Regions from separate parts of the Homo sapiens genome. Here all the other regions are linked to region 2. Evidence: fine-mapped expression QTL. A gene starts in region 2. Each other region holds a variant in brackets. All regions are shown on one strand. Distances are from middle to middle. Region 1 overlaps IST1 (IST1 factor associated with ESCRT-III). Region 2 holds the start of PHLPP2 (PH domain and leucine rich repeat protein phosphatase 2). Region 3 overlaps PHLPP2 (PH domain and leucine rich repeat protein phosphatase 2).

What was found.
Region 1: its variant is fine-mapped to the expression of PHLPP2 in monocytes (BLUEPRINT, PIP 0.95).
Region 3: its variant is fine-mapped to the expression of PHLPP2 in whole blood (INTERVAL, PIP 0.92).

What each region holds. Positions count from the first base shown.
Region 1 is chr16:71,922,015-71,927,014 of GRCh38, reverse strand. It overlaps IST1 (IST1 factor associated with ESCRT-III), which reads right to left. Exons shown (of 10, transcript NM_001270975.2): 7 at 4,335-4,541; 8 at 3,635-3,727; 9 at 2,198-2,246. Among named protein-coding and RNA genes, the nearest start is that of IST1, 29 kb to the right of the region's middle. The variant T/AT (reference allele first, on the strand shown) is at 2,004.
Region 2 is chr16:71,718,862-71,730,137 of GRCh38, reverse strand. It overlaps PHLPP2 (PH domain and leucine rich repeat protein phosphatase 2), which reads left to right and starts at 5,437. Exons shown (of 19, transcript NM_015020.3): 1 at 5,437-5,809. It overlaps AP1G1 (adaptor related protein complex 1 subunit gamma 1), which reads left to right. Exons shown (of 23, transcript NM_001128.6): 23 at 1-1,138. RefSeq lists silencers at 2,012-2,081, 5,864-6,833 and an enhancer at 6,599-7,100.
Region 3 is chr16:71,689,808-71,701,083 of GRCh38, reverse strand. It overlaps PHLPP2 (PH domain and leucine rich repeat protein phosphatase 2), which reads left to right. Exons shown (of 19, transcript NM_015020.3): 4 at 10,375-10,565. It overlaps LOC124903712 (a long non-coding RNA gene), which reads right to left. Exons shown (of 2, transcript XR_007065109.1): 2 at 1,511-1,726. SNORA70D (small nucleolar RNA, H/ACA box 70D) reads left to right here and starts at 2,383; the gene lies at 2,383-2,517. RefSeq lists an enhancer at 71-130. The variant A/C (reference allele first, on the strand shown) is at 6,035.

The sequences.
Region 1 (5,000 bases), 200 kb before region 2:
GGAGTGATAATAGGATTCTGATAGAACAAACACTGCTTCCTTAAGAACCAACATTCTTTAGGGATTGGGGGCAAAGTTTTTTTAAAGGAATATAATGTCCAAGTTATTTTGTTATAATAGTCTGATCTGTATTTCCAGTCTTCCATCTAGTATTTTATATTAAGATCATGCCCCCACACACATCTACTGTATGTTTCCTTAAGTTCTAGATTCAGGAAAACTAAATTACAAAAAAATCAAAATAGTGCTCTGACTCTGGAGGGAAGGGCAGAGTTGACTGGCAACAAGGGAACTTTGAGGTAAGAGTAATGTTGTATACCTTGATCAGAGAGTGGAATTGTCTGTGTATACACTTAAAATGTATGGGTTTGCCGGGCGTGGTGGCTCACGCCTGTAATCCCAGCACTTTGGGAGGCCGATGTGGGCAGATCACAAGGTCAGGAGATCAAGACCATCCTGGCTAACATGGTGAAACCCCATCTCTACTAAAAATACAAAAAAAAATTAGCCAGGCGTGGTGGGGGATGCCTGTAGTCCCAGCTACTTGGGAGGTTGAGGCAGGAGAATGGCGTGAACCCGGGAGGTGGAGCTTGCAATGAGCCGAGATCACGCCACTGCATTCCAGCCTGGGTGACAGAGCAAGACTGCCTAAAAAAAAAAAAAACTATGAGTTTTTTTAAAATGTAAATTGTATCTCCATAAGACAACTGTCTAATATTATTTATATTCTTTTTAGACAAAGTCTCACTCTGTCGCCCAGGCTGGAGTGCAATGGCATAATCTTGGTTCACTACAACCTCCGCTTCCCGGGTTCAAGAGATTCTTCTGCCTCAGCTTCCCGAGTAGCTGGGATTACAGGCGCCTGCCACCACACCCAGCTAATTTGTGTATTTTTAGTAGAGACAGGGTTTCACCATGTTGACCAGCCTGGTCTTGAACACCTGACCTCAGGTGATCTGCCCACCTAGGCCTCCCAAGGTGCTGGGATTACAGGGGTGAGCCACCGCACCCGGCCTCTAATTTTAAAAGTATTCTTCCCTCTGGTTTTTGCTGGTAGGTATTATCTTAATTTTTGTTTTTTAAGACAGGGTCTCACTTTTGTCCCCCAGGCTGGAGTACAATGATCACTCACTGTAATCTTGAACTCCTGGGCTAAGAACGCCTCTTGAGTAGCTGTGACCACAAGTCCATACCACCAAGCTCAGATGGGTTTTTTAAAAATTTTTTGTGGAAACAAGGATCTTGCCCAGGCTGTTCTCAAACTCCTGGCCTCAAGTGATCCTCCTGCCTCAGCTTCCCAAAGTGCTTGGATTACAAATGTGAATCACCACACCTGGCCAGTACTTTTTTAATTGAGTGGTAGCTACATGAACATGATTGCTTTACAAAATTCACTGAGCTGGCCGGGCACGGTGGCTCATGCCTGTAATCTCAGCACTTTGGGAGGCTGAGGCAGGCGGATCACAAGGTCAGGAGTTCAAGACCAGCCTGACCAACGTGGTGAAACCCTGTCTCTACTAAAAATACAAAAATTAGCTGGGCGTGGTGGCGTGTGCCTATAATCCCAGCTACTCAAGAGGTGAGGCAGGAGAATAGCCTGAACCCGGGAGGCAGAGGTTGCAGTGAGCCAAGACTGTGCCACCACACTCCAGCCTGGGCAACAGAGCAAGACTCCGTCTCAAAAAAAAAAAAAAAAAATCAGCTGGGGGCAGTGGCTCATGTCTGTAATCCAAGCACTTTGGGAGGCCAAGGCAGGCGGATCTCACAAGGTCAGGAGATCGAGACCATCCTGGCTAACACGGTGAAACCCCGTCTCTACTAAAAATACAAAAAAATTAGCCAGGCATGGTGGCGGGCGCCTGTAGTCCCAGCTACTCAGGAGGCTGAGGCAGGAGAATGGCGTGAACCCGGGAGGCGGAGCTTGCAGTGAGCCAAGATCACAACACTGCACTCCAGCCTGGACAACAGAGCAAGACTCCATCTCAAAAAAAAAAAAAAAAAAA[T/AT]CACTGAGCTATCACTTAGGATTTGTACTTAGAAGCAGGATATCCTGAGTTCTATTTTAGCATTTGGGAAGAGAACAGGGCATGCAGATAGAAGTCCATGGACATGGAAACAGTCTCTAAGGGAGGAACAATAATGAGAAAACAGCAGAGGGTTCAGCACTGAGCTCTGCAGGTTTCTGATTGATACTACTCACCAACAATCTGTGCAGAAGAGATATTCTTATCAGCATTAATGTCATCTACCTGAAACACAAAGATTGTTACCAGAGGAGACAGCAATAGTGTCACTGGAGAAAGTACTGGTGTAAGCCCCTGTGTTTCCAAAAGTTAAGTTGCTCACCAAATGCAACAGAGCCTGTTCCAAAGAAACTGCCCCTGCATTTTTTCCAATCAGGTAGATACTATGTTGAACTCCTTTGATTTTGAGACAGGGTCTCCTGTCACCCAGGCTGGAGTGCAGTGATACAATCACGGCTCACCACAGCCTCCACTTCCTGGCCTCCAGCCATTGCCCCGCCTCAGCCTCCTGCATAGCTGGGACCACAGGCATGCAGCACTATGCCTGGCCAATTTTTGTATTTTGGGTAGAGACAGGGTTTCGCCATGTTGCCCAGGCTGGTCTCGAACGCCTGCCTAAGCCTCCCAAAGTGCTGGGATTACAGGCGTGAACCACCCCGCCCAGCCCCATGTTGAACTCTTAACTGCCAAGCAGAGAAAAAAAAATCCTTACCATACTAAGACAACTTTAATGATACTTTCACCTTTGGGCAAAGGGAAAGCATTCTTGAATATATCTTAAGAACCAAGTCCTCAAATACTGATGAAGATTTTCGACCTCATTCCTACCAACGGCTGTGGGTTATGTGACGCATGCAAAACCAAAGCATAAGAAAAACTCAGGCCCAAGGTAGAACACATCAGCTACAGATGGGAACCAAAGGAAAGAACAGAAAGCAAGCTCAGGAACAGGAAGATCTTCCTAGATGAGTAATTTACATAGCAAATGCCACACCAATTTGTTTCTCAGTAAAATACTAGATGGAGACAGGTCTCAAAAGGCCTACAGTAACTGAAGAAACAAGGCTGGTCAAAAACAAGTAACCTGAACCACCTACAGTTCGAGGTATTATATTAGCTATTCATTAGCAAATTTTAACTAGAATACTAAAATGTGAAATCAATGCTGTCGGCCGACATGTAACTGGACATTTCTGATTAAGATCAATCTGGTCACTCTTCCTTTACATGTGTTGAGAACACATAGGACTAATATTTTAATAATTATGATACTTTAGCACCACGATTGTATCAGCTCAGTGTGATTATCTGCCTAGTCGGTCAAAACAACTGGCTAAGTGCCCTCATAGAGCACTACAACTTTCTAAGAAATCTGCAGTTCCTTCCTGATTCCTGGCTTAATTGCAGACAAAGCATTGCCACCAATGATACTGCCATCACCACCCACTCCACATTTCCAGGGTAGTGTTATAAAGCAACACAAGAATCCCAAAGCAAAAATGATGACAGTACTAGGAGTTGATCAAAACTCTGCCTTCCCTGTGGTCATTATTTTGCTCGCTCTTCATGGCATTCACTCTCCTGTTGCTTATAAAAGAGGCTCAGGCACTTACAGATTCATACGATGGGGGAGTTGCTGGTATCTGAGGTGGATGAATATTGGGAAAGGCCTGATAAGTCCCCATTGGCAGTCCATTGAAATCTGACTGTAAGAGGAGAAAGGCAACATCAGAGACACTGCCTCCAGTTTGCAATCTCGAAGGTTTGGGTATGGGAAGGGAGAAAGAAATACATTTATATTCTCATACTAAATATATATAAATATTCAAGATCCTTAAAAATGCCCAAAAGGACCACATGTGGTCAGGATTCCAGATTTTTAAAGATCTAGAGCCAAAGGCTATTCTTTATTGAATCAAGTGCTTCAGTGTTTACAAGGGAAAACTCTAACGAGACTTTCTTACTACCAATGACCATCTTATCTACAAAGGTTGTTCTGCCTGGTAATAATTGGTGGTTTATTCATTTGTGGAAAAAACTACTAGTATGACTATAACAGATCCCAAAGATATTCAGTAAACCTATATGAAAAGTGTTTTTCTAGCACCAACTCTATAGATTTTCCTACAGCTGAACTAGAAGACCTTCTCTGAATCCAATGTGTTTTTTCCCCACAAGATGACTGCCAGCTAATACCAAATGTTCTTACTGCTAATGGCTCCTGACAACCTATGATTCCTGAGTGTGTTCACAGAGCCAACTTGTTATCTATAACATTTTCTAAAGCTTACATCCACACTTATATATACTTACTGGTCCCTTTGGCAGTGGATATGAGAAAGGCGTATTTGCAGATGGCATAGGCATGGGCATGGGCATGGGCATTGGCACCGTTCCATCAGGTCCACCAACTGGTGCTGTGAAGCCACCACTCCCTCCTCTTCCAGGGCCTCCTTTCTTCACATCATCTGTGAATCCAACATCAATAAGATCTGTCTCTACCCCAGGAGGAGCTTCTGCCTGAGAAAAAAAGAGAAACCCAGGTCATTAACCCATGTCCAAGGCCAGGTTCCCCAGAAAGCGGAGTCTGAGATGGAGATTAGCATAAAGCAAGTTTACTGGAGTGCTTCTGGGATCAACACCTGTGGGGGAAGAAAAGGCAGAGTTAGGTGGAAGGAGAAGTTGGGCTGCAACACAGTCACAACAAAGGCCTCAGCCAATTCCCCAATGACTTCTGCAGCTGGAATGGACCTGATGGTGTTTCCAACTGTGGGTAATAGGGATGTCTGAGCAGTACACACCAAAGCATCCACCACACCCCACTGACCTTAACTGGCGGATGGTTTTTTTTTTTGAGACGGAGTCTCACTCTGTCACCCAGACTGGAGTGCAGTGGCACAATCTTGGCTCACCACAAGCTCTTCCACCTCCTGGGTTCAAGCCATTCTCCTGCCTCAGCCTCCCGAGTAGCTGAGATTA
Region 2 (11,276 bases):
AAGGTCTTTATCATTTAAAGAAACATTCCTCAGTGTAACATTTGGGAGGGGATTCTTTCCTCTTGCTAGTTTAAAGGTGTGATTTGTACTCCTTGTTTGTCCCATTCATATATGAAAATAGACTTTTAAAACTGTCCAACACTAATGGTTTATATAACATGCTTCCCATTTTTTTTATGTCGTAGAAATTGGAAGTTAGGGAGTACTGCTTTCAAGGTTCAACTTCATTATCTTCTGCATTGGAAAATATTTGGGCCATGAGAACTAGGGGAAAGGAGTTTGAATGTGTCTATTTTTTTCTAGTGAATGTATTTTAACCACAGTGTCCTAAACTGAGAAAACTAGAGAGGAAAAAGTGGGTGTTCATGAACTTTGTAGTTGGGAGAGTGGTTTTACATGTCTGTGTATTCATGACTTTGGGAGTGGGTAGGATCATTGGAGAGAGAATTGCACAGAAAGTCCTGAAGTTTAAAACACTTTTGACCAGCTTTGGCTCGGGAGAGTGGGGCTGCTTGTAGAACTGGAAGTGAATAACTTTTTCAAGCAATATCAGTGAGTGGGTCCCATCGACAGGGTTCCAGGACCTGGAACACTTTAACAGAAGGAAATGCCGAAGCAGCTTGCACAGTTGCTTTACAGACTTCCAAGAGGCTGATTCTGGCTTCAAGATGGAGCCTTGGAGTTGGTTTTTTTTTTTTTTTTTTTCTTCCCTCAAAGAACCTGCGGTTGCGCTTTGTGTGTTTTGTTTTTGTTTTCCATTTGGGGGCCCCATGGGAAAGAGCTTCTGAACTCTTTCCTTTATGAACTCCCACTGTGTTCCTATAAAGGCCCTTTTCTTTCTTAGTGTTGTAAGTTACATTTTCATTATGCCCCATCACATCTTCTTTACTGTAAAAATATTAAAAAGCTGTTTCCAAGTGGGACAGCTAATGAAGCTCTAATTATTGCAGACATATTTTTGAGATGTAAAAAAAAAAATTTAAAGTTAAATGATAAGTCTTAGAGGCGAGTGAGGAATAAAATGGATGTAAACATTTACATGGGATGCATTAGAATTCTGCTGTGTGTACTGTCTTTTGGTTGAAACAAATTATGAACAGTGACTAATAATAAAAAGTCAATACCCAATGATTTAAAATTTGCTTCCTTGCTTCTTACAATTGGATTAGAAGACTTAGATGAATTCTTATTCCAGAGGTTGAGCTAACTTACTGACCTGTTAGTATTCCTTTCACACATAAGTCTCACCAAGAGAGGAATTTGAATCACTTAAAAACTTGTAGCCAGGCGCGGTGGCTCACGCCTGTAATCCCAGCACTTTGGGAGGCCGAGGTGGGCGGATCACCTGAGGTTGGGAGTTAGAGACCAGCCTGACCAACATGGAGAATCCCTGTCTCTACTAAAAATACAAAATCAGCCACGTGTGGTGGCGCATGCCTGTAATCCCAGCTACTCGGGAGGCTGAGGCAGGAGAATTGCTTGACCACAGGAAGCGGAGGTTACAGTGAGCCGAGATCACGCCATTGCACTCCAGCCTGGGGTGACAAGAGTGAAACTTCATCTCAAAAACAACAACAACAACAAACTTGTGTTATAGACAGTAAAAAAGTCCTAAGTGCAATTGGACATTTTAACTATAATATGATTAATTTCATGCTTAATCTCCATAGGTCAATTCTCAAGGCAGAGAAACCAAGATGAAATGTATATTAAGGGTGGTTATGGGTTTTCTTTATAAGCTGCTTTTTGTGAATTTTTCAAGTGTATCTGTGACTGGGCAGAGGAAGGCTTGACCAGTCAAAATGAGTTATATTTCATGGTCTATTTTATATGAACTGTGTATTTTGTATATATTAACTTTTGTAGGGATGTGGTCTTGCTATGTTGCCTAGGCTGGTCTTGAACTCTTGGCCTCAAGCAATCCTCTTGCCTCAACTTCCCAAAGTGCGGGGATTACAGGCGTAAGCCACCGCACCTGGCTTGTCTTTTTTTAAGACAGAGTCTCGCTGTGTCACCCAGCTGGAGTGCAGTGGTGCGGTCACTGATCACTTCAGCTTTGACTGCCCTGGTTCAGGCAGTCCTCCCACCTCAGCCGTTCTAGTAGCTGGGACTACTGGCATGCACCACCATGCCTGGCTAATTTTTGTATTTTTTTTTTTCCTTTGGTAGAGACAGGGTCTCACTATGTTGCCCAAGCTAGTCTCAAACTCCTGGGCTCAAGTGATCCACTAGCCTCTGCCTCCCAAAGTTCTGGGATTACAGGCGTGAGTCACTGTGCCTGGCTGTCAACTCTGTGTTTTGGAGGTTGGTAGCTTTAGGTTTTCTGTTATTCTGATGATCCCTGACAGTCCCTTGATTGAGAAAGGGGAGAGTGTGATAGTCCCGATTGAAAAGGGGAAGGGTGTAGGCCCTGGCAGTTATCTAGTTTATGCAGAAGTGCCCTTTGGTACTGTTTGATAAGCAACATTTCTATAATCTTATGTATGAGTTAGTTAAAATTCATAGTTGTTTCTAATATTAAATTTAGTTGGCACCTTCATGTAATTAGAGGAAAATAGAAAAGTTTAGCCAGTAATAGACATTTAACAATACAACAAATAGTATTCAGATCTGAATTTCAATTCAGAAGCACCAAATTAATTTTTATCACTTTTAAGGGTTTTCTATCCTATGTCTTCAATTGTCAATTCAATTGTCCCCATATTTGAAAAATATCAAAATGTTCACAGAAAAATTCTCCAAACTTTGAAGCTAGGTAAACACTGCCTGTTTATTTGGAACCAAAATTAGGAATATCCAAATCTGCTTAACCTATTGGTAGAATAACAAGGGATTTAGGCCCAAAGATGACTTTGTGGATCACTGGAGTGCGTACTAGATATAAATAAGTAAATATAAGTCTCATCTGCTTCCTCTCCCAACATCTGATAGGCATGAGCTTCCCTTCTCCAGACTTCCCATTTTGTAGTGAAGATCTGGAAAAGCTCCTGGCATAAAGAAGGTGTGTGCGTGTGTACATACCAGAGAGGGGAAGCACAGCTGCTACAGGAAGGAGACAGAAAGGAGAGATCATGATGACTTCTCTGTCTCTTGGTTTGAGCTAAACAGTGATTTTTGTAATGATGAACCTGCAGTGAGGGCAGATGGATTTTCGCACAAAAAAAATCCCAGAGGAATTTATTTTTAGGGTTAGTCTCAGCTGTTTACCATTTCCAGAAATTGTAGTTACATAACCCTTGGCATACATAATGCACAGTGCCTTGAACTGGGGGAGAACATCAATATGTGACCTTTGAAACAAAGTATAAAATGTTAATGGCACTACATGATTTGAAAAAAATCAACTGGTTGTCACTACTGAATTGGATCTTAAATCATGGGAACCATTAAAGGTAGTTACATCATAAATTAGCCCCTGAAACTTTTGGGCGGATGGGTTTTTTTTTTTATGTTTTCCCTTTTGAAAGAGGAACTACTGTTGCCAGAATGAAGAAGTAAATAGCAATGCTTATGCCTACTATCCCTTTAATTAAACAATTATTCACCACTGCTGTTCCCCAGCATGAGCTGAAACTTTAGTTCTGCAACAAGATCTTTCCTTTTTGTGTAGTCAGTCAATAAAGAGCTTCTACTCATGAAATCTGGAAAAGGTAATGTATAATGCCTCAAGAAACAGACTCTTACAGCCAGGTGTGGTGGCTCACACCTGTAATCCCAGCATTTTGGGAGGCTGAAGTGGGCGGATGGCTTGAGCTCAGGAGTTCGAGACCAGCTTGGACAATATGGTGAAGCCCCATCTCTACAAAAAAAATGCAAAAAGTAGCCAAGCGTAGGGTGGTGCTCACTTGTGGTCCCAGCTACTGGGAGGCTGAGGTGGCATGATCACCTTAGCCCATGGAGGTTGAACCTGCAGTGAGCTATGATTGTGTCCATACCGTACTCCAGCCTGAGCAACAAAGCGAGACCCTGTCTCAAAAATAAAAAAAATATAAAAGGCTTTTGAAAAACACTTTTTTTTTTCCTTGAGACAAGAGTCTCCCTCTGTCACCCAGACTGCAGTGCAGTGGCGCGATATCTCGGCTCACTGCAACCTCCACCTCCCAAGTTCAAGTGATTCTCCTGCCTCAGCCTCCTGAGTAGCTGGGCCTACAGGCTCGTGCCCCCACACTGCCTAATTTTTGTATTTTTAGTAGAGATGGGGTTTTGCCATGTTGGCCAGGCTGGGTTCAAACTCCTGACCTCAGGTGATCTGCCCGTCTTGGCCTCCCAAAGTGCTGAATTACAGGCATGAGCCACTGCACCCAGCCAGAAACACTTGTTCTAAACCACATTTTTTTCTTATCACTGCTTGCCTGCCCTTGTTAAAATTTGCTTCTGTCTCCATATTGGTGCCTATTGCTTATATACCAGTTTTCTTGTTGGGAGAAATTACCCAGTAAGCACTGAAATGGGAATCCAACTACTTTGAGTACCTTTCCTGAAAATAATTTCAAGGTGGAAGGAAAATCCAGGAGGTGGATGACCTAAGAGTTTTCTCCCACCTTAAACCAGACTCACAGTGACAAATCGTTTTTAATGCATTAAAATGAGGCCAAGAAATGAAGATTACTGGAGATTGGAATTTTGGTATATACAAAGCTAACTTGTGAAGGGAGAAAGTAGGTCAGAAAGGGGTCGGAACCTGCAAGAGCCAAATTTGGTCCTGGCATTTAAAATATCTCCAAATGGATACATATCTCAGATGGGGGACACAGACTGCTCTGTTAAATCTAAAAGTCTTGTACTAAGCCTGCAATTATTCTAGACATACAGTTAGTCTGAATGAGGCAAACTGAAGCAATGGATAATAGGGACAAAGGGTCCTGCTTTGTCACCCAGGCTGGAGTGCAGTGGCACGATCTCGTCTCACTGCAACCTCCGCCTCCCGGGTTCAAGCGATTCTCCTGCCTCCACCTCCCAAGTGGCTGGGATTACAGGCGTGCGCCACCCTGCCCAGCTCATTTTTTTGTATTTTTGGTATAGACAGGGTTTCGCTATGTTGGTCAGGCTGGTCTCGGACTCCTGGCCTCAAGTAATCTGCCTGCCTTGGCTTCCCAAAGTACTGGAATTACAGTTCTATGAAAGTGAAGAAATTACTGTTTTTTGCTGTCTAATTCCTTACAAGTTGCTTGAAGATTCAACACCCTATGTATGAGGGGAAGCCCTAAAAATCTGGAAGTCTAGAAGCCTTCCTAGGAAAATTTAGGAGGAATCGACAGAGTACTTTTCGAGAAACCGATTGGATCTTCAATTTAGAATTTTGGAATTATAATGGCTACTATGGATCCCCACTATACGTTAGGCACTTTGTATGCACTAAATCTTCATCATAACTACTTGGCAGATTTTAATCTCTTTCTCACAGCTTAAGAACGAAAGGCTTAGATCAAGTAACTTGCACAGGGGTATAGATCTAAAGAAGGGCAGAGGGGAGATCTGGAAACAGGCTGGCTGACTCCAAATTTGGCCCATTGGCAACAAAACTACTATCACTGCGAGAACGAAAAGAAAAACAAAACAAAGAAAAGAAAAGAAGTTAACTTTTAAAAGTTTTTTTCTGAATCAGCCTTGCAAATAAATCATAAACCGGGTCACAGGCCATATTACTGCTTGAAGCAGAGCACCGAATTCTGATAATTTTGCTCCAGGAGGAGGCAAGGGAATTAAAACATGGCTGGGAGGTGAGCGGACGTTTTGTACGAGGTTGGGTTGAATTTGCTTAAGAAGGTCGCACGCATCTCTGATAAGGAAGAGAAAAGGCCTTGCCAAGGTGAGTATTCTCAACAGTTCGTTCAACGGCTTGGCAGGTGAGGGAAGTTACAAGAGCCACCCTGGCGGAGGGCAGCGTCTTGTCACAATTGACAGGTGCCGGCGCCACCTGCTTCTTTCTCCCGCGGGTTTCTTAGAGGGCGGGGAAAGCAGCAAATACCCCTCCTTGCGCTCTAGTCCTCCAAGCCTAGGGCGGCGGGCAGTGGAGGCCCAGCGCTCTGCGGTGGTGCCAGGTTCCGCCACGCGGGCCGCGGCCGGAATGCGGCTCGGTGGCGCCCGGGCCACTCGGCGCCGGCAGCTGCTTAGGTCCAGCGGGGCTGCGGGAGGGGCGGAGCTGGCGAGCCGCCGGAGGGGCGGAGCCGGCGGGCCGCGGGGGGCGGGGCCACCGGTTGCTCGCGCGCGCCGCCGAGGCTCCGCACGCCGTCGCGCGGGCCGGGCGTCTCTGTGAATCCTGGGTCGCCGATGGGGGAGGTGGAGCCGGGGCCCGCGGGCCCGCTGGAGCCCCCGGAGCCGCCCGAAGCGCCCGCGAGCCGCCGGCCGGGAGGGATCCGGGTCCTGAAGGTGAGGAGGCGGATGGACCAGCGAGCGAGCGAGCGGGCGAGCGGGCAAGCGGACTAGGGAGGGAACGAGGGAGGCTAGAGGCCGCTGCCGCCCCCGCCCCGCGCAGTGGCTGAGGCAGTCGGCGGCCCCCGCCCGGCGTCAGTCAGTCGGCCGCCCCACACCCGGCTGGGGACGCCGAGGCCTCCGCGCCGCGCCCGCGTCCAGGCCTCGGCGCCTCGGTACCCCGCTGCTGCCCATCCCTGGCCGCGCGCCGCCCGCCTCGCAGGCCCACGCCTTTGGGCTGCGGGTAGCCGCCGCCCACCCGGACCCTTCGCCGCCCCTGCTTGCCTCGCCGCGCTCGGGGCCCGGAGGCCGGCTCCGGAGGGCTCGGAGGGCCGCCGGTTCCTGGCACAGGAGCGGGGCTGGAAGTACGCAGGGCTTTCTCCCCTCCCGGACACCTGAAGACATCACCCCAGCGGGAGGATGGCAGCGGCGATTGGCCGGCGCCGCGGAGGGTTCGGGGCCAGGCCGGGTGGAGCCGGCTCCTCTGCCCTCGGGGCTCGCTACCCGAGGTGCCAGCCGGCAAGGACGACCCGCCCAGCTTGGAGAGAGAATCCCCGCTGGAGCTGCGTCGCGGGGACTTGCTGGGCGTGTTGCGGAAGGGAGGAGGGGCCGGGCCGAAAGGGGCATTCCTGCTCCCGGGAGCGGGGCCGACTGCCGAGGGAGACGGAATGGGGGAGCCGTTATGCAACAGGCAGCTAGCGGGGCTTCTTGGCAGGAATTGGGGGAGTGGGAGGATATGAAAACAGATGTAGGCAAGAGGGGAGTGGAACCTTGAAGGTGATGAGAAGTAAGTTTACGAAGGAATGCACAAGGTAGGGTGGCGATAGTGGGGAGGAGAAGATGGTTAAAGGGAGGGGTTGTGGGAGGCTGACTGGGTGGAGTTTTTTACTAGCATTTGAAAGAGTTGCAGAGAAATTTTTCTGTAGGTCAAATACGTAAACTAGGTGTCCTTCCGCAGGTGGAATGGAATTCCTTCTAGAGTTCTACATGAGGAATTCAGGATATGAAACTTGCCCAGTAGAAGGATGGAAAGGAAAGAAAATTTAAATTTGATGTGTTTCAAAAATACATTGCAAAACAAAACGTATGATGTTAAAAATCCTTTAGTAGTTTATTGGGATTGAGGTTCAGCAGTATTTACATGTTATGAAGGTTAGTACGATGTTACAAAGATGGGAACACGGAAAAACAATAATAGAACCCAGTGAATCCATGGAACAACGTAAACTAGAACTCTGTAAAATATAAAACATTTTTTGTGCTACTGCCTCTCAGTTTTTTTTCTTTTTATTTATTTTTTGAGACAGGGTCTCACTCTGTCACCCAAGCCTGAGTGCAGTGACTCGATCTCTGCAACCTCTGCCTCCAGGGTTCAAGCGATTCTCCTGCCTCAGCCTCTTGAGTAGCTAGGATCACGGGCACCCGCCACCACACCCCACTGATTTTTTTGTATTTTTAGTAGAGACAGGGTTGCGCTATGTTTCCCAGGCTGGTCTTGAACTCCTGATCTCCAGTGATCCGCCCGCCTTGGCCTCCCGAAGTGTTGGAATTACAAGGATGAGCCACCACGCCCGGCCTCATACAGTTTTGTTAAGTAGCTGAGTGGTTGAATTGTGCCAAGTGATGCTGGAAAAGAAGTATTACAGTAGAATACTCTGAATTGGGAAGAGTCATCTCCCACTCATTTTTCTCTGAAGACCCTTCCAAAACTTCATTCTTTTTTGTAACTCTTTTATACCTAATACCAAATCATGAACATTATTGTCAGATAATACAGATATTCTTCAAAAGGCTAATATAACTAAGCCAGTCTAACTTAGCCAGACTAGATCCAGTTCCATCTATCCTGGGATACTGGAAAATTTCCTTCAAAATGTGCCCCCAGATTTATTTAGCGAATTGCTGGACCATAGGTTTGTAAATTTTCCAGGTGTTTCCTACAATTTGGGGTTTATGGTTTTTTTTTAGTAATGATTAACTTTTTTACTCAGCTTATAGAAGATAGGAAGTTACAGCTAATGTCGGTGTGTGTCATGAGATTCATTTTTTTTTTTTCAAGAACAGTTTTGGGTGTTTAGCAAAGTATGTATAAACAATTAATGCCAAAAAAAATTTAAAAAGATTTTTTTTTAGAGACATAGCTTCATTGTGTAGCCCACGCTGGAGTGCAGTGGTGTGATCATAGCTCACTGCAGGTTCAAACTCCTGAGCTCAAGTACCTCAGCCTCTCAAGTAGCTAGGACTATAGGCACATGCCTGGCTAATTTTTATTTTTATTTTTGTAGAGATGGGGTCTTGCTATGTTGATCTCAAACTCCTGGCCTCAAGTGATCCTCTTAACCTTGGGCTCCGAAAGCACTGGAATTACAGGCATGAGCCACTGCACCCAGCCCAAAACGTTATTATTGTTATTATTTTTTTGAGGCAGAGCCTCTCTCTTGCCCAGGCTAGAATGCAGTGGCGCGATCATGGCTCAAGTGATCCTCCTGCCTTAGCTTCCTGAGTAGCTGGGATCATAGGCACGTTTTTTTTTTTGTTTGTTTGTTTTGTTTTTTTAGTAGAGATGAGGTCTTACCTTGTTGCCTAGGCTGGCCTTCAACTCCTGGGCTTAAAGGCTGTCCCTCCTCGGCATCCCAAAGTGCTGGGATTACAGGCATGAGCCACCGCACCCAGCCCCAAAACATTTTTAAAGCGCTGACATATTCTTTCTCTATCTCATCCCATCCCTCCCCACCGCTTTCACAATATTTAATAACGTGTGTATTCCCAGATATGAGTCTATATTGTTTTAAAGTTTTGAATGCAGAAACATCTTCTACCTAAGAGTATTTCACATTGTTTTTTTTTTTTTCGTCTTTTGTTTTTTTTTCCGAGGTGGAGTTTCGCTCTTGTTGCCCATGCTGGAGTGCAATGGCACGATCTTGGCTCACCGCCTCCCGGGTTCAAGCGATTCTCCTGCCTCAGCCTCTCGTGTAGCTGGGATTACAGGCATGTGCCACTACGCCTGGCTAATTTTGTATTTTTAGTAGAGACAGGGTTTCTCTATGTTGGTCAGGCTGGTGTTGAAGTCCTGGCCTCAGGTGATCCGCCTGCCTCAGCCTGCCAAAGTGCTGGGATTACAGGCATGAGCCACCGCACCCGGCCGTATTTCACATTCTTGCAGAACTAACTGAATATGGAGAGTTACTTTACCAGACCCTGTTTATACCATGTATATCTTATTATTGTATGTGAGTGTGTAATAGTATATCACCTTTGAACTGATCATTGCCCTCATGGAACACTTTTAGAGTTAAAAGTATAAAACTGGGCTGGGCACAGTGGCTAACTACTATAATCCCAACACTTTGGGAGGCCGAGGCGGGTGGATCATTTGAGGCCAAGAGTTCAAGACCAGCCTGGCCAACATAGTGAAACCCCGTCTCTGCTAAAAATATTTTTAAAAATTAGCTGGGCGTGGCCAGGCGCGGTGGCTCACGCCTGTAATCCCAGCACTTTGGGAGGCCGAGGCTGGTGGATCACGAGGTCAGGAGATCGAGACCATCCTGGCTAACACAGTGAAACCCCGTCTCTACTAAAAATACAAAAAATTAGCCAGGCGAGGTGGTGGGCGCCTGTAGTCCCAGCTACTCGGGAGGCTGAGGCAGGAGAATGGCATGAACCCCGGGGGGCGGAGCCTGCAGTGAGCCGAGATTGTGCCACTGCACTGCAGCCTGGACAACAGCGACACTCCGTCTCAAAAAAAAAAAAAAAAAAAAAAAATTAGCTGGGCATGGTGTTGTGCACCTGTAATCCCAGCTACTCAGGAGCCTGAGGCAGGAAAATCGCTTGAACCCGGGCGGTGGAGGTTGCGGTGAGCCGAGATCGTGCCACGGCACTCCAGCCTGGGCAACAGAGGGAGATGCTGTCTCCAAAAAAACAAACAAACAAAAGTGTAAAATTGAAGCAGTGGGTATTTAATTCATGGCTTACCCTCAAGACTTTTGCCTTCTAGAAAGATTTTTTTTTTTTTTAAAGACAGAGTCTCCTTGTGTCACCCAGGCCCATAGCTTATAGAAGATACGAAGTTACAACTAATGTCGGTGTGTGTCATGAGATTCTTTTTTTTTTTTCAAGAATAGTTTTGGGTGTTGAGCAAAGTATGTATAAACAATTAATGCCAAAAAAATTAAAAAAGATACTTTTTAGAGAGATAGCCTCATTGTGTAGCCCACGCTGGAGTACAGTGGCGTGATCTCCGCTCACTGCAGTCTCCACCTACTGTGTTCAAGCGATTCTCATGCCTCAGCCTCCAGGGTAGCTGGGATTACAGGCATGCGTGCCACCACCCCCGGGTAATTCTTCTGTATTTTTAATAGAGACGGGGTTTTGCTACGTTGGCCAGGCTGGTCTCGAGCTCCTGACCTCAGGTGATCCTGCCCGCCTCAGCCTCCCAAAGTGCTGGGATTACAGGCATGAGCCACTGCGCCCGGCTAGAAAGATCTTTAAATCTAAAATACGCTCTTTGTATACTTGTTTGATGTAAGAGGTAATTGTCATTGTGTTCCCTTTCAAATAAATTTGTGATAACAATTCTATAAGAGTAAGGGGAAAATAATTTTCTCAACCTAGCAATTCCAGTAGAATGGTGATTCTAAAAGTTGAAAGCACCTCAGAGGACCGTGTCATCTGCAGTCCTGGCTCCTAGGAAGGTTTTTCCAGCAGTTAACTGATGTGTTAAGCAGTGGAGCAAGACATTCTTGAGAAGAAGGAAGCACTAGGCAATTCAGCAGTGGCTAATAACAGCTAAACAGTCCATCTAGATTGTTGCTGTAAGCCTTTGCTTTGCTTAATATCCAGGCCTTTTAAGTGCCCATCGGTCAGGT
Region 3 (11,276 bases), 29 kb after region 2:
ATTCACTTTCAACACGGTTCACTCACATGGCCTCAGTTCCTCACCAGCTGCTGGTAGGAGGCTTCAGTTCCCTCTTCTGTGGATCTTTCCATAGGGCTTCCTAGGCGTCTTCACAACATAGTGGCTAGTTTCCCCAGTGATGAGACACACGTATACACACATGCATGCACGTGCACAGAGGCCTCAGTGTCTTTTATAACCAAGCTTTGTAAGTCACCTTTACTTTTACCACTTTTTACTTATTAAGAAATGAGTCACAGGCCAGGTGCGGTGGCTCACGCCTGTAATCCCAGCACTTTGGGAGGCTGAGGCGGGCAGATCACAAGGTCAGGAGATTGAGACCATCCTGGCTAACACAGTGAAACCCTGTCTCTACTAAAAATACAAAAAATTAGCTGGGCCTGGTGGCGGGCACCTATAGTCCCAGCTACTGGGAAGGCTGAGGCAGGAGAATGGCGTCAACCTGGGAGGTAGAGCTTGCAGTGAGCCGAGATCGTGCCCCTGCACTCAAGCCTGGGTGACAGAGCGAGACTCTGTCTCAAAAAAAAAAAAAAAAAAAAAAAAGAAATGAGTCACTAAACACAGCCCATACTATAGAGAGAGGAATTAGCTCCAGTTTTTGAAAGGAGTGTCAAAGAATTTGTGGGTCTATTTTTTTTTTTAATTTTTTATTTTTTTTGAGACAGGGTATCACCCAGTTGCCTAGGCTGTAGTGCAATGCTGCCATCATGGCTCACTGCAGCCTCAACCTCCTGGGCCCAAATGATTCTCCCACCTCAGCCTCCCAAGTAGCTGGAACTACACGTGCGCACCACTGCACCTGGCTAATTTTTGTATTTTTTGTAGAGCTGAGGTCTCGCCATGTTGCTCATGGCTCGAGGCTGGTCTCAAACTCCTGGGCTCAAGTGATCCTCCTATCTTGGCCTCCTAAAGTGCTGGGATTACAGGCACGAGCCACTGTGAGCAGCCGGATCTATAATAAAACTGATGCAGGATATTTTCTTGACCCCTCTTTGGGACTTGTGACAGGGGTACCCCATTTACTCAGCCCACCCCGCTCAACCCCTTGTGGGAGGGAATGCGCAGGTGAATGAGTGCGTGAACTGGCTAGCTGATTGGACGCTGGTGGGAACAAACCGTGTTCACTGGGGTCTGTTGTGCTCCACCCTTTGTGGGATGTAGCGCATAGGAGAGCGAGTGCAGGAACTGGCTGCCTGCTTTAGCACCAGCAGAAGCAAACTCTGTGTAGGCTTGCAGCAGCGTCCAGGTGGGGGTGTCTGTGATCCCAAGGCCCCAGAGGACATGTTATAATGCTCTCTTACCTCTCTCATCTGCAGACGGCAATGTGTTACCAGGTCAGTGGTCCCTTTGCCTTGTTGCGTAGGGCGGCTGCTTTCCACCAGTGAGGGTAAAGGGCCAGTGTGACAGCCTTTTTGAATACCGGCACTTGGTGCGTCCCAAATTCTTGTCTGGTGCCTAAGAGGCATGAGGTCATGTGGACAAATTGAAAGATGGTGAATGCGGAGAATTTTATTGAATGATGAAAGCAGCTCTCAGTGAAGAGTGGAGCTGGAAAGGGAATGGGAAGGGCAGCTCACTCTCCCTTGAAGTCAAGTTGCCTCCCTGCCACTGTCTTCTGAAGTCAAGTCGCCTCTCCCTGATGTCCAGCTGCTTCTCTTCTCTGCTCGCTGAGTCTGGGGTCTTCATGGGCACAGGATGGGAGGTGCTGTAGGTAGTTTTGGAAAAGGCAACATTCGATTGGTAAAAAGACACTCAGAAAGAACCATTCAGGAGAGAGCAGACAAACAGGGATGGAAATTCTCACTTTGGGCCACAGGTTTCAGGCTTTTTGGCTCGAAGGTGGGGTTTTGCTGGGCACCTGTCCCTGTCTGCCTAGAATTTCTCTGCCTCCTGTCTCTATCAAAACTATCATAGAAAATATGCTTCCCTCTCACCTTTTTCCTCCAACCACCCAGTTCCTGAAACCAGACACAACTATTGTTACGGAAGGAAAGAGTTGAAGTATTCTCTTTGAAGTAAATAGCTTAGTAATCAGCTTCAAATATTTTATGTGTAGAATTTTTGGTGCATCAGCTTATTTGGAATATAGTGTTAATAAAGCCAAGGTCATAAGGGCCCGAGTGCGAACCAGTTAATGTTGTGTTCTCTGGTTATAAAAGGACACTGGGTAGTGTCCCAGTCAGCCATTATGCAAATGCCAGTTATCAGTCTTGCTGGAGAGGGAGTGCTGGGGGAAAAGTGAGTGGAATGGCTCTCTCAGTTCGAATTCATGATATAAAAGCTGTGGAGATAACATTTCACTAAAGTCAAGTTGAGTAGGTAGCATGATTAATCATGGGATTAAGAGAGCATGTAAATCCTCTGCAGACAGTTAAGCCAACTGAGTTCCTTTCCTCAGGGAGGCCCAGTGTACAATGGCTGCCCACAGCAGCTTCCTTGGTAGCGTACTCAGCCTGTTTCTTGTATGGGTTGCTCTAAGGGACCTTAGAGACAGGCCTTTCAGATGGATGTTCATGTCTCTGACTTTGTGCTATCCCCAGTCTAGGCTCCAAACAGGTATGCGAGGTGCCTTTGGAAAGCCGCAGGGCACTGTGGCCGAGGTTCACATTGGCCAAGTTACCATGTCCATCTGCACCAAGCTGCATAACAAGGAGCACATGATTGAGGCCCTATGTAGGGCCAAGTTGAAGTTCCCTGGTTGCCAGAAGATCCCACATCTCTAAGAAGTGGGGCTTTACCAAGTTCAATGCAGATGAATTTGAAGACATGGGGGCTGAGAAGCAGCTCATCCCAGATGGCTGCGGGGTCAGTTACATCCCCAGTAGTGGCCCTCTGGACAAGTGGCGGGCCCTGCTCTTGTGAGGGCTTCCACTGTGCTGCCCCCTCTTAATGCTCACCAATAAATCCTACTTTCTGGGCCGGGCGCGGTGGCTCACACCTGTAATCCCAGCACTTTGGGAGGCTGTGGCAGGCGGATCACGAGGTCAGGAGATTGAGACCATCCTGGCTAACACAGTGAAACCCCGTCTCTACTAAAAATACAAAAAATTAGCTGGACGTGGTGGCGGGTGCCTGTAGTCCCAGCTACTCTGGAGGCTGAGGTGGGAGAATGGTGTGAACCCGGGAGGCAGAGCTTGCAGTGAGCTGAGATGGTGCCACTGCACTCCAGCCTGGGCGACAGAGCAAGACTCCATCTCAAAAAAAAAAAAAAAAATCCTACTTCCTGTTCACCTTAAAAAAAAAAAGAGAGAGAGAGAGAGAAAGAGCAAACCTCTTATTTGCGTTGGAGAAAGTGGCATATAGAGGGTATGATTTGTGAGGGAAGTTGTAGCTCTGGGACTGTATGGCTCAGGTAGCACAACTCCCTGCCTGAACGTTTCTCTGTGTACTGCATTCTCTGCACATATTGTTTAAAACAGCTTTGTCAAAAGAGCATAAATACAAACATCAGAAGCCAGACGCAAAAGAATTACATCGTATATTTCCATTCATTTAAAGTTCAGAAAACAGGCTAAAACACAGCCATATTATTTTGAAATGTGTGGCAATACTATTGTTTATCAAAATCTGTTCTTTCATAGTAACAAAATTGTAGTGGGGCATATAACTGCCTAGCTACAGCCCATTTCGCAGCCTTTCTTGCGGTTAGGTGTGTACATGTGACAAAATTTTCTTCCATTGTATGGAGTGGACTTGATGTGCGCCACTTCTACCTGGTTCCTAAAACCCCCAGTGTGTGCTTCTCAGGGCTGTGGTGCTCTTTTCCTGTCTGGTGGGCTAGGATGGCAATAATCAGAGCAATAATTGAAGTCAAGTGTGGAAAATTGCAGACCCTGAGTTTCTTTTTATTTATTTATTTATTTATTTATTTATTTATTTATTTATTTATTGAGACAGAGTCTTGCTCTGTCGCCCAGGCTTGAGTGCAGTGGTGCCATCTCAGCTCACTGCAACCTCCGCCTCTCAAAGATTCAAACAGTTCTCCTTCCTCAGCCTCCTGAGTGACTGGGATTAGAGGAACCCACCACCACAGCTGGCTAATTTTTGTATTTTTAGTAGAGATGGGGTTTCACCATGTTGGCCAGGTCTCGAATTCCTGACCTCAAGTCATCCGCCTACCTCGGCCTCCCAAATGTGCTGGGATTACAGGTGTGAGCCACTGTGCGTGGCCAGAACCTGAGTTTTTGAATGACAGTGTTAACCCCTGGCAAAACAGAATGCTCACTTGAATGAATTAAATTCCTGTTGCTTGAGCCATTATATTGTTTGCTACAGCCATAGTTAATACAGGATATATACGAAAGTGGCAAAAATATAAAGAGAGCAAGGAAATTATTATAAAAGTCAAGGGAGTGACTGAGGAGTGCAGGGAAGAGGACATGATTCTTACAAGTAGAATTTTTTTTTTTTTTTTTGAGATGGAGTCTCACTGTGGCCCAGGCTGGAGTGCAGTGTCGTCTAGGCCGGGTGCAATCTCAGCTCACTGCAGCCTCTGCCTCCTGGGTTCAAGCAATTCTCATGCCTCAGCCTCCCAAGTAGCTGGAGCTACAGGCACCCACCACCATGCCTGGCTAGTTTTTGTATTTTTAGTAGAGACAGGGTTTCACCATGTTGGTCAGGCTGGTCTCGAACTCCTGACCTCAGGTGATCTGCCCACCTTGGCCTCCTGAAGTGCTAGGATTGCAGGCGTGAGCCACTGCGCCCGGCCACATTTAAAATTTTGACTGAGCATTCCCAAGTTGCACAAATAGGTGTTACTAGTGTGTAGTTGATTTGGTAGAATTTGAGAGTACTTATTTCCCTACACCTTTGACAACATCAGGTATCATCTTTTCCCCGATTGCAAAAATACTATCTCATGTTAATTTGCATATTTAAAGCTTCTTTGTTAAAATATAGGAGTAACGTGGTAGAAAAACATTCCACCACCCTAATACAATTATTTTTATGATTGTGTATTTTCTTAGTCTTATTTTATATGCATATTTTATATTTTTATTTATTGTTCATATATTTTTGCATTTAAAACATTGGGTGTTTAACTACACAAGTGTAATATGACTATGGTGTCATTATCTGTGGTGTTTTAATTTGTTATAATCACCTCCTAAGTCCATTAACTGCTCTATAGATAACCACCATCAATTTGGTGTATATCTGTTCAGAATTTTCCAACTTGATTATTTTTATATAGTATATATTCATAGAACCATATGGATTTTGTTTACATAAATGGTATTATTTGGTATTGGTCTTCATGCTTTTTTCACCCAAGAGTTTGTCTTGGAGATCTTACCTTGTCAGCATTTGCAGAACCATCTTCTGTATGCATTTCTTTTTTTTTTTTTTTCTGAGACAGAGTCTCACTCTTGTTTCCCAGGCTGGAGTGCAGTGGCATGACCTCGGCTCACTGCAACCTCCACCCCCCAGGTTCAAGCGATTCTGCTGCCTCAGCCTCCCAACTAGCTGGGATTACAGGTGGCTTACCACCACACCCAGCTAATTTTTGTATTTTTAGTAGAGGCGGGGTTTCACCATGTTGGCCAGGCTGGTCTTGAACTCCTGACCTCAGGTGATCCGACGGCCTTGGCCTCCCAAAGTGCTGGGATTACAGGCATGAGCCACTGTGCCCGGCCCTGTATACATTTCTTTCAGGGGCATAGTATTGGACATCATGTATGCATTATAGTCTGTGTAACCATCTCCTTAGTGATGGACATTTACTTTGTTTCCAGTTTTGGACGGTTAAAACAGCCATTTTAGTAAAATTATCTCTTTATGCACCTGTATTCCTTCAGAGTGATCTCTAAGAATGAAATTATTGGGTTATAGGTTACTCACGTTTAAAATATTAATAGTTACTACTGCAGAACACTTTTATATCCTGTCAGTATAACAGAGTACCCCTTTGCCTATAACCTTTCAATATTATTAGGCTTTAAAATATTTACTAATCTGATAGATAAAATGATGGTCTTGGCTGGGCACGGTGGCTCATGCCTGTAATCCCAGC[A/C]CTTTGGGATGCCAAGACGGGCGGATCATGAGGTCGGGAGATCGAGACCATCCTGGCTAACACAGTGAACCCTTGTCTCTACTAAAAAATACAAAATATTAGCCGGGCGTGGTGGCAGGCGCCTGTAGTCCCAGCTACTCGGGAGGCTGAGGCAGGAGAATGGCGTGAACCCAAAAGGCGGAGCTTGCAGTGAGCCAAGATCGAGCCACTGCACTCCAGCCTGGGCGACAGAGCAAGACTCCGTCTCAAAAATAAAAAAAAAAATTTAAAAAATGATGGTCTCTTTGTTTAAATTTTTTTCCCCTGATTACTAGTGTGATTGAGAATTATTTCATATTTTTATTGGATCTTTCAGTTTCTTTGAACTACTCATTGATATTTTTGTACATGTTTCTGTTTCTCTTTTTTCATATTGATTTAAAGGACTTCTGCATGTATTCTGAATATATATCTTTTGGGTACTATATTTGTGACTCAATTTTTTTCCAGCCTGTAACTTTTTATTTTATTTATTACTTTTTATTGTGCATAAGTTTAAAATTTTTATTTAGTCACTGTTTAGTCAATTTATTTATTTTATTTATTTTTTGAGACGGAGTCTTGCTCTGTTGCCCAGGTAGGAGTGCAATGGCATGATCTCGGCTCACTGCAAGCTCGGCCTCCCAGGTTCAAGCAATTCTCCTGCCTCAGCCTCCTGAGTAGCTGGGATTACAGGTGTCTGCCACCATGCCCAGCTAATTTTTGTATTTTAGTAGAGATGGGATTTCACCATGTTGGTCACGCTGGTCTCAAACTCTTGACCTCAGGTGATCCAGCCAGTCAATTTTAAAAATTATTTTATTTTATTTTATTATTTTTGAGACAGTATTGCTCTGTCACCCAGGTTGGAGTGCAGTGGCATGATCTCAGCTCACTGCAGCTTCTACCTCCCTGGTGCAATCGATTCTCCTGCCTCAGCCTCCCGAGTAGCTGAGATTACAGGTGCCTGCTACCACGCCCAGCTAATTGTTGTGTTTTTAGTAGAGATGGGGATTTTGCCATGTTGGCCAGACTGGTCTTGAACTCCTGGCCTCAAGTGATCCAACTGCCCGGGCCTCCCAAAGTGCTGGGATTACAGTTGTAAGCCACTACACCTGGCCAGATTTTTACTAATATACATATATGATATATTTTGCTAGCTGATAGGAAAGTTTTCTGTCCCTGTTCTCTGGAAAATCAGAGATGTCAAGAAATTGGGGGAAGTCTTTGTGAAGAAGTTGTATTTGAGTTGGTTCTTTAAAAATTGACAACGTTTCACTAAGCAGAAATGAAAAAGAAGGCAGCCGTGGGAGATTAAAAATTTCATTGCATGTTCATGAATCACAGTTAATTTGAGTCCAGATTGTTTTGGGCCATGGGTGCTCCATCAGGAGTTTAGCCGTCATTTGGCAGATGGTAGCAGGAAGTGATGGGATCCAAGTGAGCCCAGGGAAGATCAGTCTGGTGCCAGTGTGGATAGTGATTCAGGTGTGAATTGATAAGGATCTGAACTAGGGAATAGGAAGGAATTGTTCATGTGAGAGACTTTTTGAAGGAGTAATCAGTAAGACTTAATGATTGATTGAAAAGAGAAGTTGAGAAAGCGAACCCAAGAGTTGAAGCTGCTTCTGAGGTTTTGAGCATGGGTGACTTCAGGAGATGAGCTTGAGTTGTGAGAAGGAGCTGCTGCTGTACAGGGATGGTGATGACTTGGTTTAGGCATGTTGATCTTTTTTTTCTTTTGTGAGACAGAGTCTCGCTTTGTCCCCCAGGCTGGAGTGCAATGGTGCGATCTCAGCTCACTGCAACCTCCGCCTCCTGGGTTCAAGCGATTCTCCTGCCTCAGCCTCCTGAGTAGCTGGGATTACAGGCATACGCCACCATGCCTGGCTAATTTTTGTATTTTTAGTAGAGATGGGGTTTCCATGTTGGTCAGGCTGGTCTTGAACTTCTGACCTCGTGATCCGCCCGCCTCAGCCTCCCAAAGTGCTGGGATTACAGGCATAAGCCACTGCTCCTGGCCAGGCATGTTGAATTTTAAGTGATGGTAAACATGTAGTTGGAGATATCTGGATAGTTGGAAATGTGGAACTAGAACTTAGGAATATAGATCTGGGAGAACCAAACTCTCTGAGGAAGGTGGAATTTAGAATACAGTCAGTCGTCCATATCCACAATGGATCAAAAATATTTTAAAAAAATAAAAAAACAAAGAAAAATATGGCATAACAACTATTTACTTAACATTTACATTGTTTTAGATATTATAAGTAATCTAGAGATTATTCAAATTATACAGGAAGTTGTGCGTAGGTTATATGCAAATACCATTTCATTTTATATAAGAGACTATAGCATCTGTGGATTTTGGTATCCTTGGGGAGGTCCTGGAATCAATCACTTGCCAATACCAAGGAACGACTGTATAGATGAAAGGATTGACCTAGAATAGAAGGTGAAATGCTTATCCTGTATAGTGTATTAATATACAAAGTTTTATTGAATAATACAATTTTAAGGCTTTGAAGTAATCTAGCTCATTTCCTCATATTGTATATGGGAAACACATGGTTAAATAGGCAAAGTGATACCTAAGTTAAATAGGCAAAGTGATACCTAATTTAAATAGGCAAAGTGATACCTAATTGTATAAACAATTAAGTGGCCAGGTGCGGTGGCTCACACTTGTAATCCCAGCACTTTGGGAGGCCGAGGCAGGCGGATCACGAGGTCAGGAGATGGAGACCATCCTGGCTAACACAGTGAAACCCCGTCTCTACTAAAAATACAAAATATTAGCCGGGCGTGTTGGCGGGTGCTTGTAGTCCCAGCTACTCGGGAGGCTGAGGCAGGAGAATGGCATGAAGCTGGGAGGCGGGGCTCGCAGTGAGCCGAGATCGCGCCACTGCACTCCAACCTGGGCGACAGAGCAAGACTCCGTCTCAAAAAAAAAAAATTATGTAATAATACCAGGAGTACAACCCAGTCTTTCCAACTTCTGTGTTACTGTTTGGACCACCTCATACTGCTACTCCTGCTCATTTCTGTGTATAGTTAGTTGTCCCTTTTTGTTGTTGTTGTTTTGTTTTTTTTTGTTTTTAAGACACAGGGTCTTACTATGATGTCCAGGTTGGCCTTGAACTCCTGGGCTCAAACAGTCTTCCTGCCTCAGCCTCCTGAGTACCTGGGACTACAGGTGCACACTTCTTTTAATAGTGCTCTTACCAAGAACTTCACGTCTTTTCTGTTATTATGTGCTGTTTTGTTCACTGTATCTCAGTCATGAAGGCCTCTGATGAGAAGTAGAATTTCCACCACCGTGATCGGAATAGTTGATTGAAGTACCACCCATAAGCTTTTCCATATTAGTGGCAGAGAGATGGAGGATTATGTACAAAATTAGAGTACTCCTGTAGTTACTAATTTCTTCCTTCTAGGGTAGATTAGTAACAATAGTGGTTGTCATTTATTCCATGTTCTTTTTGTACCTAAAACTATGCTTAGTATTTTATATTCCTTATTTATTTATTTATTTATTTATTTATTTATTTATTTATTTATTTATTTATTTGAGACAGCGTCTTGCTCTGTCGCCCAGGCTGGAGTGCAGTGGCATGATCTTGGCTCACTGCAAGCTTTGCCTTCTGGGTTCACGCCATTCTCCTGCCTCAGCTTCCTGAGCAGCTGGGACTATAGGTGTCCGCCACCATGCCCGGCTAATTTTTTTGTTTTTGTATTTTTAGTAGAGACGGGGTTTCACCGTGCTAGCCAGGATGGTCTCGATCTCCTGACCTTGTGATATGCCCGCCTTGGCCCCCCCAAAGTGCTGGGATTGCAGGCGGGAGCCACTGCAGCTGGCCATCTTACTTAATTTTTATAAGAATCCCCAGAAGGTAGGTTGTGTTAAGATTCAAACTGTATAAATGAGTAAAGTAAAGCGTAATGAGAATAAATAGTTCAAGTAAACAAAGTGACAGAACCAGCATTCAAATTCAAGTATCTCTGACTTCAGAGTTCATGATCTTAACCACTCTACCATACTGCCTTTCTCTGGGTACATAGGAGATATGGCTGTTGGAAGAAGGGTTAATGTAACAATGGCATCCAAAGTACAATTTTGCTTCATAGACCAAAATTCAAAGGTACTCCTACTGTATATAATTCAGTGATGGACTAGATCTAATTTTGTCTTAACTATATTGCTTGGTTACTTATATCTATAAATAAGGTTGTTGAATGTTGACACACAATGCTTTCTTTTTCCATTTCTGTATTCTTACACTACTTTAATGGTGGATTCTGAAGTATTATTTCCTTTTCAGAAAAACCATGCCACATGGATCGTTTGGATCGAATCCTATTGTCTGGCATCTATAATGTACGCAAGGGAAAGACCCAGCTGCATAAGTGGGCTGAGCGCCTAGTTGTCCTCTGTGGTACCTGCCTTATCGTTTCCTCAGTGAAGGATTGTCAAACTGGAAAGATGCACATTTTGCCTCTGGTTGGTGGAAAGGTAAGACTCACAAAGATGAATTATTTTTCATTTGATCATCTTAATTAAGAAAATATCACATAATGCTTTTCATAGCTTTTAGTCATATCTTTTCAAAGAAGCCAGTATGGGCATTATTAAAGATTATATCAGAGACTGTTTCAGAGGTTCAGAGGCTATTATGCCCCAAATCCTGTTGCAGAACTATCTGTTCAAGACATCCCCACCTCCACTGCTAGGCATTAGATTCTGGGGCTCACAATAGCCAGAGTAGACAGTGGATGCTACCATTAGAAGCTGCCTTTGGAAATTAGAAGTAGCTGCCAGCATCCATCACCAAATAGATTCTTTCGGGGTTTTTTTTCCCCCCCAATTAAATTAAAATTCAGAGTCTGAGGTAGTCATAAGTTGTGATCCAGCAGCCAGGGAGCCATGCCATTTCTTCCATCTGTCCTAGAGGAGTCTCCATCCCAGGAAAGGAGTTCACTTGTTAGTCAAACAGAATGAATGACAAATGACCATAAACAGATATGTTAATATTTTTAGGAAGCTATCTATACATGATTTTACTCTGTTTTGAATCTTGACTGTCATAAACCAATCTGAGTTTGTCTGGAAGACTTCCAGACAAAATTACCTCATGAATTCACACTTTGGATCAGGCATCCATTCTGATCCAAATACACAGCAATATTGATAGAATACATGTATGAAAAAGATAAATAAGCTGGG